Regions from separate parts of the Homo sapiens genome. Here region 2 is linked to region 1. The links come from fine-mapping of genetic effects on gene expression. A gene starts in region 1. The other region holds a variant in brackets. All regions are shown on one strand. Distances are between the middles of the regions.

Region 1 (4,395 bases):
TTAACTGGTGAGAAAACCAATGCTAACAAATAAGACCAGATTTACTTGATCATATTTTTGACCTTTTCTCTCCATGAGCAATAACCATAATTCAATAGATATTCTGAAGTCTGAACGTGAACACAGACAAAAAGAATAAATCTTGAGAAAGTATACTGCTCATTAGCATCCAAAATGCTGTAAAACATAAAACAAATACAAACTAAATATTTCTGTTCCTTCTGCTTCAAATATCTGTCCATAAATGTTGGCACACACATAGGGCTATGTTGTGTCAATTGTAATAATCTAGAAAAAATAATCTCAGTTACCACAAACAAGAAAGTGATGGTAACCAGTTTTTCAAATAAATTACCATGTGTCACAATTTGGCATAAACTCTGATCCTTATGAATAATTCATATTTTGTGCATTAATAATGCATGTCCTCTTCCCATTGGAATGCTCCCTAACACAGAATGGATGTCTCATACCAATTCCTTCCATTGACATGATGGAGTAAAGCTAAATTAGAATGCTGGGTTTTTTTTTTTTTTAACTTAACTCCCCTTAAAATTGTAACACTTGGCCAGCCTATAAGCATACCAAAAATAGAAAGTTCCCATTATTGTTTGCCCCTTACATGGGAGTCACTCAGTAAAGTACCCCCAACAATGGGTGCTCTTGAAGATGAGAATATTTGCATAGCAGAAAAGAAAACCAAGGAAACTTTGGCAGAGCTGATGGAAATGGTGAATTCTGTTACATTTCTCCCTAATTACATATGTATATATTCACAATAACACAGGACATAATCGCTAAAACATGGTCACCAGCAGGGGAGAAAAAGAAAAGAAAAAGACCAAAACGAATTAGGCAAGAGTTTTATAATAATTGCGGATGTTCCTCCCCACAGGGCTTCCCTCCCTAGCTGAGTTTACTACTGTGAAATTTCTTTTCAGTTTTCAGTAAAAGTATCTGGCACATTAAAACAGTCCAAAGACCAAGTAAGAGAAAGATGCCAAATGACACATATTTCTAAAGAAAGCTATTCAATTTACCACTCATTATCAATGGCGGCATTCCACACGATTACTGACATTATACTTATTTCAGGCATTACACCAAAGGATATTTTCTCCCCCCGCCCCCGCCACCTCTCCACCCCCACTTTTCACCCCTTATGTCCAAACGCACAGGATCAACTAAAACAGCGACAACACTTGATAGGAGGCAAAGAGAAATGAGGGACCTAGTTTGAAATTTTTAGGAAATAAAAAAATCGTTCCAGTATCTTCCCTCTCCCTCAAGAATTCTTCCACCATCATTCAGTCCCAAGGAGAGGAAGGGTAGGTTCTCTTTTGAAGCCTCCTCCAGCGAAGAGCCAAGAGAGAAAGGGGCGAAAGAGAGGGAGTTTTAAGGAAGGAGCTAGCCTGTGTCAACATCTGTCCCAAGTGCCCTAAGATTCATTCATTCTTCCTTTCAGGACATATGTAGGGAGCACTTGCGCTATGCCAGGTATCAGGTTCCACGTAAATAACCCTTCCGTGGACCTCCAGGGTGTATTCCAGCAACAGAAATCCACCACCCCGGCTTCGAACCACGGAAAATCCAGATTCAAGTATCTACCCAAGTTGGCCCCGACCAGAGGCCAGCCCGCACCGCCTTTGACACGACACCTGGGACAGAGGTGGGGGGATCCAAAGACACCTTACGCTTGGCAGAAATCTCTCCCTGGGGTCAGAGGGTTCGTGACCTCGTTCACACCGAGTATGCGTGTCCTCTTTCTCAACCAGCCGATCCATCCCCCGGAAAAGTTAAGTTGGCGGCGAGTGGGAAAAGAGGGGAACCGGGGGCATCCGGCAGGCACCCCCGCCCGGGCTTCTCAGCTCCAACTTCCATGGCTACCGAGAAATATTTATTTCGAGTAGATGGGCTCCAGGGGCTACTGAAGCCCAACACGCGGCCACCATCAGAAAGCCAAGTCATCCAAGAGATAAAGATAGATCCATTACATACCTAGACGCTGGCCTTACAGTGACAGCCCCGGAGACGCGGGTTTCGGCTGAGAAAGCCACCGCGCAATTCTCCGGCGCGCGGCCGGGGACTCTCCGTCCACCCTCCAGGGATGCTGGCTCAAGAGAGAGACAATCGAACCGGCGAACAGCAACACGGAGAGGATCGATACTCACCCCGAGGCGTCTGCTCCGGATCCTCACGTACCCTTGCTTCACTATGTCATTAAAATTGGAAGCCATCCCAGACAGCCGGTGACCCCCCCTTTACCCAAGAGCGCGCACCCGAAGTGGCTCTGGGGAGGGTGGAGGGCAGGGTCAAGACAAGCAGTCGGTGGGAGAAAGTTGGAGAGGTGAAGCTGCTTCGGCGGCGCTGGGCGAGGCTTTAGAAGGCGCACATCACTTTCTCTGTCCCCCCAACCCTGACAGTGGGCGGCCGGCTTGCAGCCACTTTCGGGGAGCGCAGAGCGCGGCGCGGGGAGGCGAGGCTGGAGCGCCGGCGTCAGCTGACTCCGCGGCCGGCCTGCCAGGAGGAGGAGCGGCGGCGGCTGAGGGATCCAGCCCTGCCTCCTCCCGGCCGAGAAGGAGGAGAAGAAGGAGGAGGAGGAGGAGGAAGGAGGAGGAGGAAAGAGGAGGAAGGGGTGGGGGGCTAAGAGGAGGAGCCGCGCGAGTCCCAGCACTGGGCTGCGGCCACCCGTGAGCAGCCGCCCTGGAACGCTCCCCGCGCCTCCCACCCACCTTTCCCTCCCCGCTTCCCCTTCCGATCCCTCCCCTCCTGGCGGACCCGGAGCGTGCCCCCGCCACCCCCGCACCTCGCCCACAGCCTACTGAGATAGCGCTCGCTCTCCTCGCTCCAATGACTTATTTTAGGAGGAGAGGAAATTTCACTTTTTTCCAGCCGCCGCCCACCCCGCCTCCCCCTTCAGCCCCTGCCCTTTCCCCGAGAAGGGCCGATTTTGCGTGTGTGTCTGGGGAGATGGTGTTGCCGCGGCTCGCCTTGACCTTGGCATCTGAGGAGAGGGATATTGTCACCGCTTAAGCCAAATGCTTCCTTGGGTTTCCTTGTGTCAGGGACCTAGCCCTCGCTGGTATCATTTGCCACAGTTTCCCTGTTTCAGCCTCTTTCCCGCCGGAATGTGTTTCCCAGGGGGCTGAGACTTGGCCTCATCACTGTCTGTCCCCAAAGCCTGACCCCAGAGCAAGTGCTCAGTAAATCCTTGTGGTTATCAAGATGGCCACCTAGGTGCCAGGCACTCTCCAAGCCTTTTGCATGGATTGACTCATTCAAACTCCCCTGCACTTTTTGAGGTAGGTGCCCTGTTAATGTATACACCAGGCCCATATTTAATTAAGCCTCCTTAGCCTGGCAATAGAGCTCTCATTGCCATTATGAGATACTGCCTATACAATAAGATGAAGAAGGGGACTGAATTTCACACTCACCTGCCCCTGACTGCATTACCTCCCTAAAGCATACTTGATTGATAATTGCTAACACACATTGAGCACCAGTGTGCTGGGCATTGTGCTAATCTTGTTAAGGGAATAATGAATTAGGCACCAGCATCCACATTTTACAGACTTGCTAAGGTCTCACAGCTGGCCACTATCAGAGCTAGGATTGAAGGGAGGTGTGTGTAGTGCCCAGCTCTGCTCCTAAACATTCTCCTATTCCTCTTCTGAAGAGAGGATCTCACAGAAAGAGAGGTTACTAGTTGATTTCCAAGGAAGATCTTTCTAATCATTTGCACTATTCACAAAGGCAAAGATAATCATCAGAAATTAGACAAAAATTCTTACTCACTGGGAAGCGACAAAGCTAAAGCTAGAGATCACTGCTCAGAGCCATTGAGAAGAGGATTCAGTTAGTAGTGGATTGTTTGACCTGATGACATCCACAGGTCTTTCAACTCTAAGACGATATGAATCTTCCCATTCTCACTGGGAACATTAGCTTTTAGTCACCTTGGCTTGATGAGTTTCAGTTAAAGAACAGAAACCTCCAAGAATGTGTCATAGGAGAACCGAGACTAAATGGGGACAATCAAAAAGGAGATATTCTGGCAGGGAGAACTATTTTTGCTACATAGTAAACCATCTGTCTTCATGTTGCCATTCTATGGAAAATGATGTTTTAATTTTAAATCTCTCACCAAAAGAGATGAAATGGTAAAATCATTTGGAGAGCTCCTTTTGAAGGATTGGAACTTAAAAAAAAAAATGCTGCCCATGGTTGCTGTAAAATAGAGGTGTTCATGGAAGGCATTTATCTAACACATCATTTATAGACCAAGTCCACAGTATTATAGAAACAAAAAATGAAGAAATTAAGGCATAAGGAGCTTGAAATGAAGGGCCCACAATAACGGAAATAATTACTGACAAAAACTGAAGGCGAGAA
Region 2 (4,395 bases), 180 kb after region 1:
AGAACGGACTAATACACCAGGTGCTCAACTCTGGGAGGTTTCTGACATTCAAGGCAAAGGGGAAAAAAGTGAGTAGGAAGTGGCAGGGAAAGAAGTGGGAAGATGTTAGATATAAGATCAGGAAGATAGGAAAGACTCGCATTGTAAAGTTTCTGTGGTCATGCTAAGGAGTTGGGATTTTATTCTAAACATGATAGCAAGACAAAATTTCCCATAAAAGAAGCATCTTGTGCTGAGACATTATGAAGACATGTGAAAGATTTTCCATTAGGAACAAAATTAAGATTAGTAGATTCCTTGTCCAGCTCATACATCAAGGTTATCTCCATGTTTCATTGTCTTTGAGCTAAAAACTAAGAGGAATGGAAATGACTCTTGTCCACAGGAATGCCAACTATATTTGGTGGCATGCCATTGATTATTGTCCAGTGGATATTGACTAGTTTTGTATTTACTAAAGAAATTCATTTCAGCATTTGATGAGCTATATATTTGTCTGTTCTTTGGATTCTCCTTTGCACCAGTTGTAACATCTTATTGATTCCCTTATCAATTAATAAATGAAAGAAAATCTTTGACACATCTTCATTTTGTATTTGCATGAAGGTCAGGATTTTGCCTTTTTAAAACATCATCATTTAAAAGCATAAACACTCTCCACGATAGAATCATGTGCTACCAAACATTCAAACTACCACCCAATTTCAACATCCAGTTGTTGCCATTAATTAAGCAAATCGCCACAACAACATAGCTAATCCTATAACCTAACACACTAACAACCCCCACAAGCAATCTCTAAACTGCTATTTGTTAAGGTGTAAACTAGAGAACAACTCTACAACAGCTCCACATCCCTTTTACAGAAGATGCATTTTGCCTACCTACTTCTATTAATCACTTCTCACTATCCACACTTGTGATTGCACACTCCAAATCTCTCCTTCTCTTTACTAAATGACCTTGGTGGGGTATGGAAAAGGCATGAGTAGATCAAATGTGTGGAAGCTACCAGAAGGTGGTATATATGGAGATGGGTCACATGAAATGTTGTTTACAAACACCTGGGCTTCCTTTTCTCAGTTTTTAAACCAGGAAAAAAACGATCAATAAAATATGCCAAGTACATTTTGATAACTTGATCCCACTTCTCTGCTCTATTATAATATCTGCAAGATGTCAATTACTCTACTGAAATAGGATTATTTCCAAGTTTTACCTTTTTAGAGATGACTTCAGAAATACCTAGACATGCAGCAGATGTTGGTCAAGCCTCCAGAACATTAAAATGCCTGTGATAACTTTTTAGTGTGTTTTACAACTACAAATTCACAGAGTCAAAGACTGGAATGAGGGACTTGGAGAAGAGGGAAGTGGGAAAGTTGGGCACAAATTTCAGTTAATTAAGATGGGACAGTTCTAGAGATATAATCTACAACACTGTCCCATAGCCAACAATGGTGTATTGTAAACTTAAAAATTCCCTAAGTGGATAGATCTCATGTTAAATGTTCTTATCTCAATATTTAATAACATTTATTATAATATTAAATAAACAAAGTCACCTGTCCTGTTAAATAATAACCCTGATTCTGCTTGTATCACTTTTAATCTTGCAAAACATACAAGGCTATTTTAAATATTAATGAAAGCTGTAAGTCCATTATTTAAATTGAAATGTCAGGTGGATTTTTTTAATGATGGAAGCACACATTTCAGCAGCACATATTCAACGCACTTTTCTTTGAGATTTTACATTTCAGGCTGAGTTAGATAACTTTTGTCTTAAAAATGATAAAAGCAGGTGACATGCTGGACAAATGTATTAATTAGGACTTTTAAGGGCAAGTTATAGAAATTTGGCTAAAAATGGGTTAAGTAAAAGCTGGAATATTAGCTCATGCAGCAGGAAAACCAGCTTCAGGCATGGTTGTATCCAGGACCATCAGGTGTCATCAACATCTAGGCTCTGTTTTGCTTGTATTGGCTTCATTCTCAAAAAGTCTCTTTCTGTGTAGAAGTAAGTCTGCCAGCACACCAGGTTGATATCTCACCCAATAGTATAGCAACCCCACTATTAAGCATTGAATACTTAGAACACGTTTATAAAATCCTCATAATTGAAGTACCTCTATCAGAAAAAGCAATGGTTTTATTATCAAACATTTTCTATTGTTAAATGAACATTTAGCAGATTAACAGGCAAAAAAAAATCTATAATATACATTTCCAAATAGAAGTCTCAATAGAGAAAAAGCTTCTTTCAGAAAGTGAATAATTTCTGCTAAGGATCAGAGAGGACTTCTTTTTTCTTTAATTTCATTTCACTTAACCTCCAGGCATTTGGCCACCTCTACACAATCAGTGCTTTTGTTTTTCTTCTACTTTTAGTTTCAAGTCACTGAGCCAAAGCCCATGATAAATGACTATTCCATGACT[C/T]CCTGACTTCAATTTTTTGTAGATAAACAATTCCAGGATTTATGATTAATATACCTAAAATATTATAGAAAAGCACAACAGTGTGAGGAGGGGCGATGAGTTCTGACAATAAAAGAGGTGAAACAATTTGGCAAGCTCACTGGGTCTTGGCTGGGAGACATTTGGCTCTGAGCAGGAGTCATAACTGCCAGGCTAAATCAGGGCAATTATAGTGATGCATTTATAATAGCAAAGTCGGTTTCAATTCACAGAACAAAATCTGGGAAAACACACATTGTCCCTGACAACAACCATTTAGAGTTTTCACTCTTACTGGGTACCAATGTAAATATATATAGATATATTGGTTTGTATCTATACACACATACATACATATTTTTCCTATATCTCCATCAATTCCATTTTCTCTTTGCAGTGAGGTAAAAATGGCAGGCTGGAAACAGAAACGGAACGGGAAAGGATCTGTATAACCGTTTATTCTCTGAGCTTTGACCACATCTCCCAAATCTGATTAGATTTGCTTCTTATTGCCATCCAGACAAGATTTATTCTTATTTGAGGGCATACAGAGTGAGAAGAAGAGGAAGGAGAGAGAATGCAAGGATGGGAAAGTGTCAACAGAATTGTTTGCACTTCTCGAAAGTGAGGAGTGAAACTGAAGCTCCCCAAAGCAGCACTGAGTGGGTGACACTCCTAGCATTTTTCGAGCACTTGTGATACCTGGCTTTGCAAATGTGATTTCACTGGATCCTCTTGGAAAGCTGTAACAGACATTGATGGTGCTGTGACCTCTGAGTTCATCTGCAGCTGCAGAGGCCAGCTTTGTTCAGTCTCAGGTGCACCTCAAGCACCCCAGTTTCTGCTTCTGCCTCCTGAGAACAGGCTCACCTGGGACAAGCCATTGCGAAGGAATTACTACTGTTGAGGACACCCCTCAACCAATGGGGGACCTACCTCCCATCCTTCTAATGAACCATTCTGGGAGGCATTCCCTATGTTTCTCAGCAGGTTCTTGATCAAAATGCTTATGACTTTTCTTAGTCCTTTGTTTACTCTTCCCACTACTTCATTCTCAATACCAAGGATCCTCCATCCCTCCCTGCCCCCATAAACTATCTTCACCCAAATCCCTATCTCAGAATTTGCTTTCAGGGAAATCCAAGCTAAGGCATAAGCTTATTATATTTCCCACTTGAGAGATGAGGAAACTGAGGCTCAGAGAAATTTGGCACAATACTATAAAGCTGGTAGGGAACAGAACCAGGATTTGAGCCTAGACTTTGGAGGCATCAAAATGTGTGTGTTTATCATTACACAACGCTGCCTCCTGGAATAGAGTAACCCTTGGTTTCACCTCTCCCTCTTCCTTTAATGAGTCATCAAAAACACATAATTCATCAGGCCCATGTGTTAGAACCTTCTCCTTGTGTGTCTTTGAAGAGCTTCATGAGAACGTGTTTGCCTCATTGGAAAAATCCAGCTCGATGCTAAATTGTATAGAGCTAATGATGTTGGGAAATTCAGATCCATTCAGCCAGTCAACCAGTATTTAGAGAGGGTTTACAATGTGCTATGTGCTACAATACTAATTGCTAAGGGTAAATTAATGAAAAGGAGACCTACCTCTCAAGGAGATTGCAATAGAACTAATACTTATAAATTCACAGTACTGAGTGGTGAGGCTGGTTCATGCTTAAAACACGCAACTCATCCAGCTAGAGATATATCTGTGGGTTAGGTGGGGAGAGGGAGTCAGAATTTCCAGAGAAATACTTTAAAAACTTTTATGCGCATCCAAATCACCTGGAGATCATATTAAAATGCAGATTCTGATCCAGGAAGCCTGAGACAGCACCTGCATTTTAACAAGCTCCCTGCTGCTGCTGCTGCTGCTGTTGCTGCTGCTGCTGAGCCTGTGCCACATTCTGAACAGCAAGGCTTTGGAGTGCCTCTGGC

Alleles and levels. Alleles are on the strand shown, and positions count from the first base shown. SD is a standard deviation of normalised expression in the study named.
For the expression in subcutaneous fat of the gene that starts at base 2,591 in region 1, allele C in region 2 goes with a lower level than allele T (moderate effect, 0.44 SD a copy in GTEx).

The links. PIP is the estimated chance that this variant, and not a neighbour inherited with it, causes the effect.
Region 2: its variant is the best candidate, but not a certain one, in a credible set for the expression of DOK5 in subcutaneous fat (GTEx, PIP 0.88).

What each region holds. Positions count from the first base shown.
Region 1 is chr20:54,473,789-54,478,183 of GRCh38, reverse strand. DOK5 (docking protein 5) reads right to left here and starts at 2,591. Exons shown (of 8, transcript NM_018431.5): 1 at 2,172-2,591. The coding sequence starts at 2,237.
Region 2 is chr20:54,291,808-54,296,202 of GRCh38, reverse strand. No RefSeq gene overlaps it. Among named protein-coding and RNA genes, the nearest start is that of PFDN4, 86 kb to the right of the region's middle. The variant C/T (reference allele first, on the strand shown) is at 2,440.